Linked DNA regions of Homo sapiens. The protein of the gene in region 2 purifies or fractionates together with the protein of the main gene of each other region. This does not show direct contact. Each region holds a gene or a part of one and is shown on either strand. Other genes may lie near its edges.

The links.
Region 1: the proteins of MXRA7 (region 2) and CLGN purify together in Homo sapiens (co-immunoprecipitation; one large-scale study listed by IntAct). This does not show direct contact.

The regions. Positions count from the first base shown.
Region 1 is NC_000004.12:140,396,577-140,400,398, reverse strand, and holds part of CLGN (calmegin precursor), read left to right. Parts: coding exon 1-42; intron 43-1,358; coding exon 1,359-1,548; intron 1,549-3,822. UniProt on the Homo sapiens protein: Functions during spermatogenesis as a chaperone for a range of client proteins that are important for sperm adhesion onto the egg zona pellucida and for subsequent penetration of the zona pellucida.
Region 2 is NC_000017.11:76,704,415-76,708,236, forward strand, and holds part of MXRA7 (matrix-remodeling-associated protein 7), read right to left. Parts: intron 1-3,822.

The DNA.
Region 1 (3,822 bases), on a different chromosome or scaffold from region 2:
AAAAGTTCTTTACAGACAGGAAGACTCATCTTTATACCCTTGGTATACCCTTTTAATTCATTCATGTATTCAAAAATATTTGCTGACTATTGATGTATTCATGGCAAGTGCTTTACAAGAAAACAAATGTGTACCCCATCCTGAAGGAGCTTATCTTTTTCAGAAAATAGGACATGTATAATGACAGCACGGGTAGAAAATAAAGTACCATATAAGAAAGAGAGATGAGGCACAGCTAAGAGTTCACAAGCAATATTACTTCCAGCTTAGAGACTTGGAACAAAGCTAGGAAAGATTATATTTGAACTCGTCTTGAAGTACAGATAGAATGTTGAAGACAGTAGGGTGAAAGGACATTTTAGACGTTGTGACAGTGGTGCTGTAAGAACAGAAAACTAGAAAATAAAAAGGAAGAGGCCAGAACAGAAAACTAAAAAATAAAAAGGAAGAGGCCCTTAATGCCAGACTAAAAAGTTTAGACTTTATTCTGTAGGCAGTTGTGATTATTGTTATGTCCTACCTTGTGTTGGTTGTGGCATGTACTTCGAAAGGAGAAGCATTGAGCAGCCATATATTAATATACTTAAGTAAATAGGAATTTGCATAGATATGGGGGTGAGGGACATCATAAGCAGTTGTTTCTCCCATTCTCAAGTATAATGGCTGTAGAGCTCTGGTCAGCCCACTATCAAAATCAGAGCATATTGGAACCTAATAGGACATTTTGAAATGGCCCTATTGGCTTCCTTTCTCACGTCTCAACTCCACCCAAGATTAAAGTATTTCAATCTTTTTCCCCAAATGCTGCAGTGGTAGAAACATTCATTTTGTCTGCTCGGGCAATGCCCATTTCATCTTCAATATCAGATGTGATATAATAAATATCTTTATGAAATAATTGAAAAAACTAGGCATTTGGGGGAACACCAAGTAAACTGTAGAAATAATGAGAAAATATTACTAGAACAGAATAAATTAATTTTTTGTTATACTTACAACACTTTAAGATGGTATCAAAAAAATTAAATGCTGAAAAAGATTAGCTTGTATTTTGTAACTATAAAAGAGTGAAGCTGACTCGTTATGAGTCCCAAAACAGAGCTATTTGGTATTATTTTTTATTTGAGAAGTAATGGAGCATTTTATTGTAAAAAATGCAGTTTAAAACAAAATTTTATCTTTAGGAAATGTATCTAGTGATTTTAGAATGTTTTAGTTCAATACATTGGTTATTCCTCTATTTCTGGTTGGGAAAAAAGCTTTACCCATGGAGTTAAGGGTAGTTACATTATTTAGAAGATTATCTTTAAAGCGTATATCAAAATGATAACTATAATTTATTTAAATTGGTCCCTTAGTGATGAATCCAGATGACACATTTGAGGTGTTAGTTGATCAAACAGTTGTAAACAAAGGAAGCCTCCTAGAGGATGTGGTTCCTCCTATCAAACCTCCCAAAGAAATTGAAGATCCCAATGATAAAAAACCTGAGGAATGGGATGAAAGAGCAAAAATTCCTGATCCTTCTGCCGTCAAACCAGAAGACTGGTAAGCAAATAATTCGGTAGCAAAGCATTATCTGGCATAACTAGGTAATGAAACAACATATAAGTGAAGTTTACAACCCATGAAGTTTATTTTTTTAAACATCAGAACTACTTATTTTTAGTATTTTGGGTGAAATATTTTCTAAAATGGATTTTACACTTCCCTCCCTGTAATTTTTTTTTATTTCTATTGATAATTATGTTGCATTTTTTAATATATATTTATTTTTTATGTTTTCAATGCTGTGGATTAAAAATTTCATAAATCCAAAATACCAGTGCTTTAATTTTCATTCCTAGTTTGATCTTTATTGTATGTGTGTGAGAGTCCGAGGTGGGCAGATCACCTGAGGTCAGGAGTTCGAAACCAGCTTGGCCAACATGGCGAAACCCCGTCTCTACTAAAAACACAAAAATTAGCGGGCATGGCGGCGGGTGCCTGTAATCCCAGCTACTCGGGAGGCTGAGGCAGGAGAATTGCTTGAACCCAGGAGGCAGAGGCTGCAGTGAGCCCAAGGTCGTGCCACTGCACTCCAGCCTGGTGACAGAGCAAGATTCTGTCTCAAAAAAAAAAAAAAAAAAAAAAAAGAGTATGTTTGCCCTTAAATGAGAGAAACCACATATAACTGCTTCATTCTGATTGTTGAAATGTGTTAGAATTTGTTTTACAAAGTACTAAAAGAAATGCTCCATTAAATTTTAACTTTTGGTTACTCTGAGCACTCAGAAACTCAAGATGACATTGGTATCAGGCAAGCACAAATCTATACATTTGTAAAGTTGATTATTTCTGTTTATTTTGTAACTCATTTGGAAAATCATGAAGTGTCCTCTTGTTTAAAATTTCTATCTTTCTGTAATGATGAAAATTGTATTAGTAGTTCAGTACTTTATGTTTATATACTTCAGAATTTACTAAGTGTTTTGTTTTTGTTTTTGTTTTTGTTTGAGATGGAATCTCGCTCTGTCACCCAGGTTAGAATGCAATGGCGTGATCTCAGTTCACTGCAGCCTCTGCCTCCTGGGTTCAAGGGATTCTCCTGCCTCAGCCTCATGAGTAGGTGGGATTACAGGCAAGCGCCACCACGCCCGGCTAATTTTTGTATTTTTAGTAGAGATGGGATTTCACCATGTTGGTCAGGCTGGTCTCGAACTCCCGATCTCGTGATCCTCCCGCCTCAGCCTCCCAAAGTGCTGAGACTACAGGCTTGAGCCACCACGCCAGCCTAAGTGTTCTTTTTAAAATAAGAATGCTAGAATTAAATAAGGAGAGTTTTAAAAATTATATTGGAATAGGGAAGAACTTTCCAAATATGACATAAAATCCAAGAATCCTTTAAAAATAAGTTCAACTACATGAAAATAAATGATTTGTATATTGCAAAAAAAAAAACCTCCCTAAACTATTTCAAAAAACACACAAGAACCAGGAAAAATTATTTTCAATCATATAGCTGACAGAGAGCTAATTTCTTAGTATAAAGGTAATGAGCTAAGAAAAAATAGTTTTTGTGTATCACTTATGCTACTAAATGTACATTCAAAGTTCAGTGAGATACCATTTTTCACCTACCACATGGGCAGAAATCAAGAAGTTTGGTAACACTCTTCGCAAGGACAGGAGAAAATAGGTACTTTTGCATGCTGCTGGTAGAACCGGAAGTGGAGTGTAACCATTATAGAGAGTAATTTGGATGCTACTATCAAAATTTAAAATGTCCATACTCTTAACAATTATATTTTCACAGATGAGAAATGGCATATATTCTAGGACATTCACTATGGCATTGTTTGTATTAATAATAGTAAAATTTTGGAAACACTAAATGTCCTCCAAGAGGAGATAAGCTAAATAAATTATGGTGTATCCTCAAGTAGAAAACTATGCAACTGTTAAGAATGAAGCTATGTGTATATATATATATGTGTATATATATATATATACATATATATATATATACATATATATATATATATGTATATATATATGCTCCAGCCAGGCATGGTGGCTCATGCCTGTAATCCCAGCACTTTGGGGGGCTGAGGTGGGTGGATCACCTGACGTTAGGAGTTCAAGACCAACCTGGCCAACATAGTGAAACCCCATCTCTACTAAAAATACAAAAACTTAGCCAGGCGTGGTGGCAGGTGCCTGTAATCCCAGCTACTCTGGAGGCTGAGGCAGGAGAATTGCTTGAACCCGGAAGGCAGAGGTTGCAGTGAGCTGAGGTCGCACTATTGCACTCCAGCCTGGGAAACAAGAACAAGACTCCAC
Region 2 (3,822 bases):
CAGGATGGTCTCGATCTCCTGACCTCGTGATCCGCCCGCCTCGGCCTCCCAAAGTGCTAGGTTTACAGTCGTGAGCCACCGCGCCCGGCCAGCTTTTTTTTTTTTCATGCCTGTAATCCCAGCACTTTGGGAGGCCGAGGCAGGCTGATCATTTGAGGCCAGGAGTTCAAGACCACCCTGGCCAACATGGCGAAACCCCGCCTCTACTAAAAATACAAAAATTAGCCAAGCATAGTGGTGCATGACTGTAATCCCAGCTATTTGGGAGGCTGAGGCAGGAATACTGCTTGAACCCAGGAGGTGGAGGTTGCAGTGAGCTGAGATTGCGCCACTGCACTCCTGGGCGACAAGAGCAAAACTCCGTCTCAAAAAAAAAAAAAAAAAAAAGAATGCTGGAAACAGTTCTGCATGAGGTCCCCTTAGAGAAGGGGCTTCTGAACCTGACCTCCTCATCCTGTTCCATACATCTGTCCTTAACAGTGGCAAGCCCAGTGTGGCCAAACGCAGGTTGTTCCAGAAATACTCCTAACCATCAGGGATCTGGCATTTCTCTGGAAGACGGTTTACCAGAGGCCCAAGCTGGTCTCCCTCCTCCCACAGTGTGGTTTGAGCCGAGTGGGAAAGAGCGGGGCTACAAAAAGGAAACTGTCTGCATGCTCACCATTTCATTTCTAGCTCTCCAAAGCTAGGTGGCTTTTTTTCTCAAGACATATTCTTTAAAAACATACTCCTTCTTGCTAAGCAGAAAATTCTAGCTGACATTAGTCTGTAACCAAGGCTCTTTCTCTCTGAAAGAACAAAGTTTATCTATTAGGAAAGCCCCTGGACTTCTTTCATATATGGAAAAAAATTAAGTTAGGCACTCAAACAACTTTACAAAAAAATACCCACTGGAACTACTGAACAGGGAACTCTACTTACAGCCCTCCAAGGCATCTTCTATTCAGTTGCTCTATATCGTTATAGTTATTGTGAATACAATATTTTATGTTCTACCTTTTTACTTATTTCATACTAATTTGCTAATGAATCCAATGTGCTAATTAATGAACATTTGGATTATTTCTAGTTTTTTCCCCAGTAAGTCACTGGGCCTGTTCTGGACTAAATATTTGTGTCCCCTGCAAATCTATCTGTTGAAGTCTTAACCCCCAGTGTGATGGTATCTGGAGGTGGGGGTCTTTGGGAGGTGAGATTTAGACGAGGTCACGATGGTGGAGTCCCTACAATGCTATGAGGGCCCTGATAAGAAGAGGAAGAGACATCCCTCTCTCTCTGGCATGTGAAAGTACAGCAAGAAGGTGGCTGTCTGCAGGCCAAAAAGAGAGCCCTCACCAAAACCAGAATCTGCCAACACCTCCATCTTGGACTTCCCAGCCTCCAAAAGTGTAGGAAATAATGCCTGTTGTTTAAGCAACCCAGTCTGTGGTATTTTGATATATCAGCCTAAGCTGCTTAAAGACAAGGACCTAAAGTGATATAAACAACTGGCAAATATCTACTTGGCCCTCCACTACTTGGCTTCTGAGATTTTGCTAAGAGAACAGAAAGTAGGACCACACTGCCATCACAAAGGCCCACACTGCCATCACAGAGGACCACACTGCCATCACGAAGGCCCACTCTGCTATCACAAAGGACCACACTGCCATCACAGAGGACCACACTGCCATCACAAAGGCCCACGCTGCCATCACAAAGGCCCACGCTGCCATCACAAAGGACCACACTGCCGTCACAGAGGCCCACGCTGCCGTCACAGAGGCCCACGCTGCCATCACAGAGGCCCACGCTGCCATCACAAAGGCCCACTCTGCCGTCACAGAGGCCCACTCTGCCATCACAGAGGCCCACGCTGCCGTCACAGAGGCCCACGCTGCCGTCACAGAGGCCCACGCTGCCATCACAAAGGACCACGCTGCCATCACAGAGGCCCACTCTGCCATCACAGAGGCCCACGCTGCCGTCACAGAGGCCCACGCTGCCGTCACAGAGGCCCACACTGCCATCACAAAGGACCACACTGCCATCAAAAAGGACCACACTGCCATCAAAAAGGACCACACTGCCATCAAAAAGGACCACACTGCCATCACAAAGGCAGGAGAGATGATGGGGAAGTTCACCTGCTCCTGGGTCATTCTGGGAAGGCTGGGGTCTCTGTAGCTTCCAGAGCCCACACCTATGGTGAACAGGTTGGTGAGGGCAGAGGACACAGGTGGACCTGACAGCAGGGTGACTTCAGGGGAACCAGGGCCAAGTCACATGGTTAAGACAGACAGATGAAGGCTGTGCTACCCACTCAGACCACCACCTCCAGAGTGTCTGAAAAACCAACCCCTTTCCCAAGAAATTTCCCAAAGAAGAATGTTGGCTTCTTTGTTCCAACATTCTCTTTTGAAAAATTCCAAACCTACAGAAAAGTTGAAATAATAATACAATGAATACCATACACCCTTCACCTAGATTCACCAATGGTTAACATTTTGCCATCTTTGCATTCTCTCTCTATACACACACACACTGTGTGTGTGTGTGCATGTAACTATTTGAATCATGACATGTCATCCCAAAATGTTTCAGCCTGCATCTTCCTAAGGATAAGGACATTGTTTACACAGCCATCTGCCGGTATCGTACACAAAAAATTCAGCGTTGATTCAATAAGCTTACCTAACACAGCCATTCATTTAAAAAATGTCTCAATTATCTCCAGTATGTCCTTTATAGCTCCCTTCTCTGATGGAGAATCCAATCAAGGATCAAGATTGTATTTATTTGTCATATTGCTTTAATCTCCTAAATCCCAATTAAATCTAGAAGAGTCTCTGTGTGCTTCATGACACCGGCCCACTGCCTTGCAGGAAGTCCCTACTCTTTTTTTTTTTTTTTTTTTTTTTTTTTTTTTGAGATGGAGTCTCGTTCTGTTGCCCAGGCTGAAGTGCAGTGGCACGATCTTGGCTCAACTGCAACCTCAGCCTCCTGGGTTCAAGTGATTCTCCTGCCTCAGTTTCCTGAGTAGATGGGATGACGTGCACGCCACCATGCCTGGCTAATTTCTGTATTTTTAGTAGAGACGGGGTTTCGCCATGTTGGCCAGGTTGGTCTCGAACTCCTGACCTCAGGTGATCCTCCTGCCTCGGCCTCCCAAAGTGCTGGGATTACAGGTGTGAGCCATCGCGCCCGGGCTCTAGTCTGTCTATGAGCAGAGCTAGGCCCCAAGTACCGAGATACTTGAGTCCTGGCACAGACAAGAAATTTAACTCTAGTGCTATTCAAATGACCCTTGACGCTTTGCCAATTACCAATGTTTGGGAATCCGACCATCCAGCCTTGCTCCAATCCACAAGTCCATTAGGTAAGAGGCCTGGCAATCCTAAAACCCCAACCTACACAGGAGCACCAAGAAAGCCCTGAGTCCTGGCCTGAAAAGAGGCCGGCTCCTGTTCTTGACTTCGTTGGCTCATGATTCTTTGCGTGAACAGGCCTTGCCTATAATGCTTCCTCACAGCCCACCCTGTGCTAATCCTTAGGAGAGAAAAGAGGTTCTAGCAGTATCATTCCGCTTCTCCTCAGCCTCCCTGCCCTGGCCTGTGCTGCCCTGGGGAAGCAAGAGCTGCACTGATCTCATCCCCATTTCTTTGGTCCATTTCCAGGGTCTCGGCCTATAGTAGCCCCTCCCCACTACTTTGTCCTTGGCCAAAGAGGGCACCGTGCACTAGGGGACGCTCCTGAGCGATCCCCAATAGCAGCTGAAGGCTGCTTCCCGGGGCGAGAGATCCTTCTCAATAATCAGCTTTGTAGTCAGAGGCAGCAGCTGCC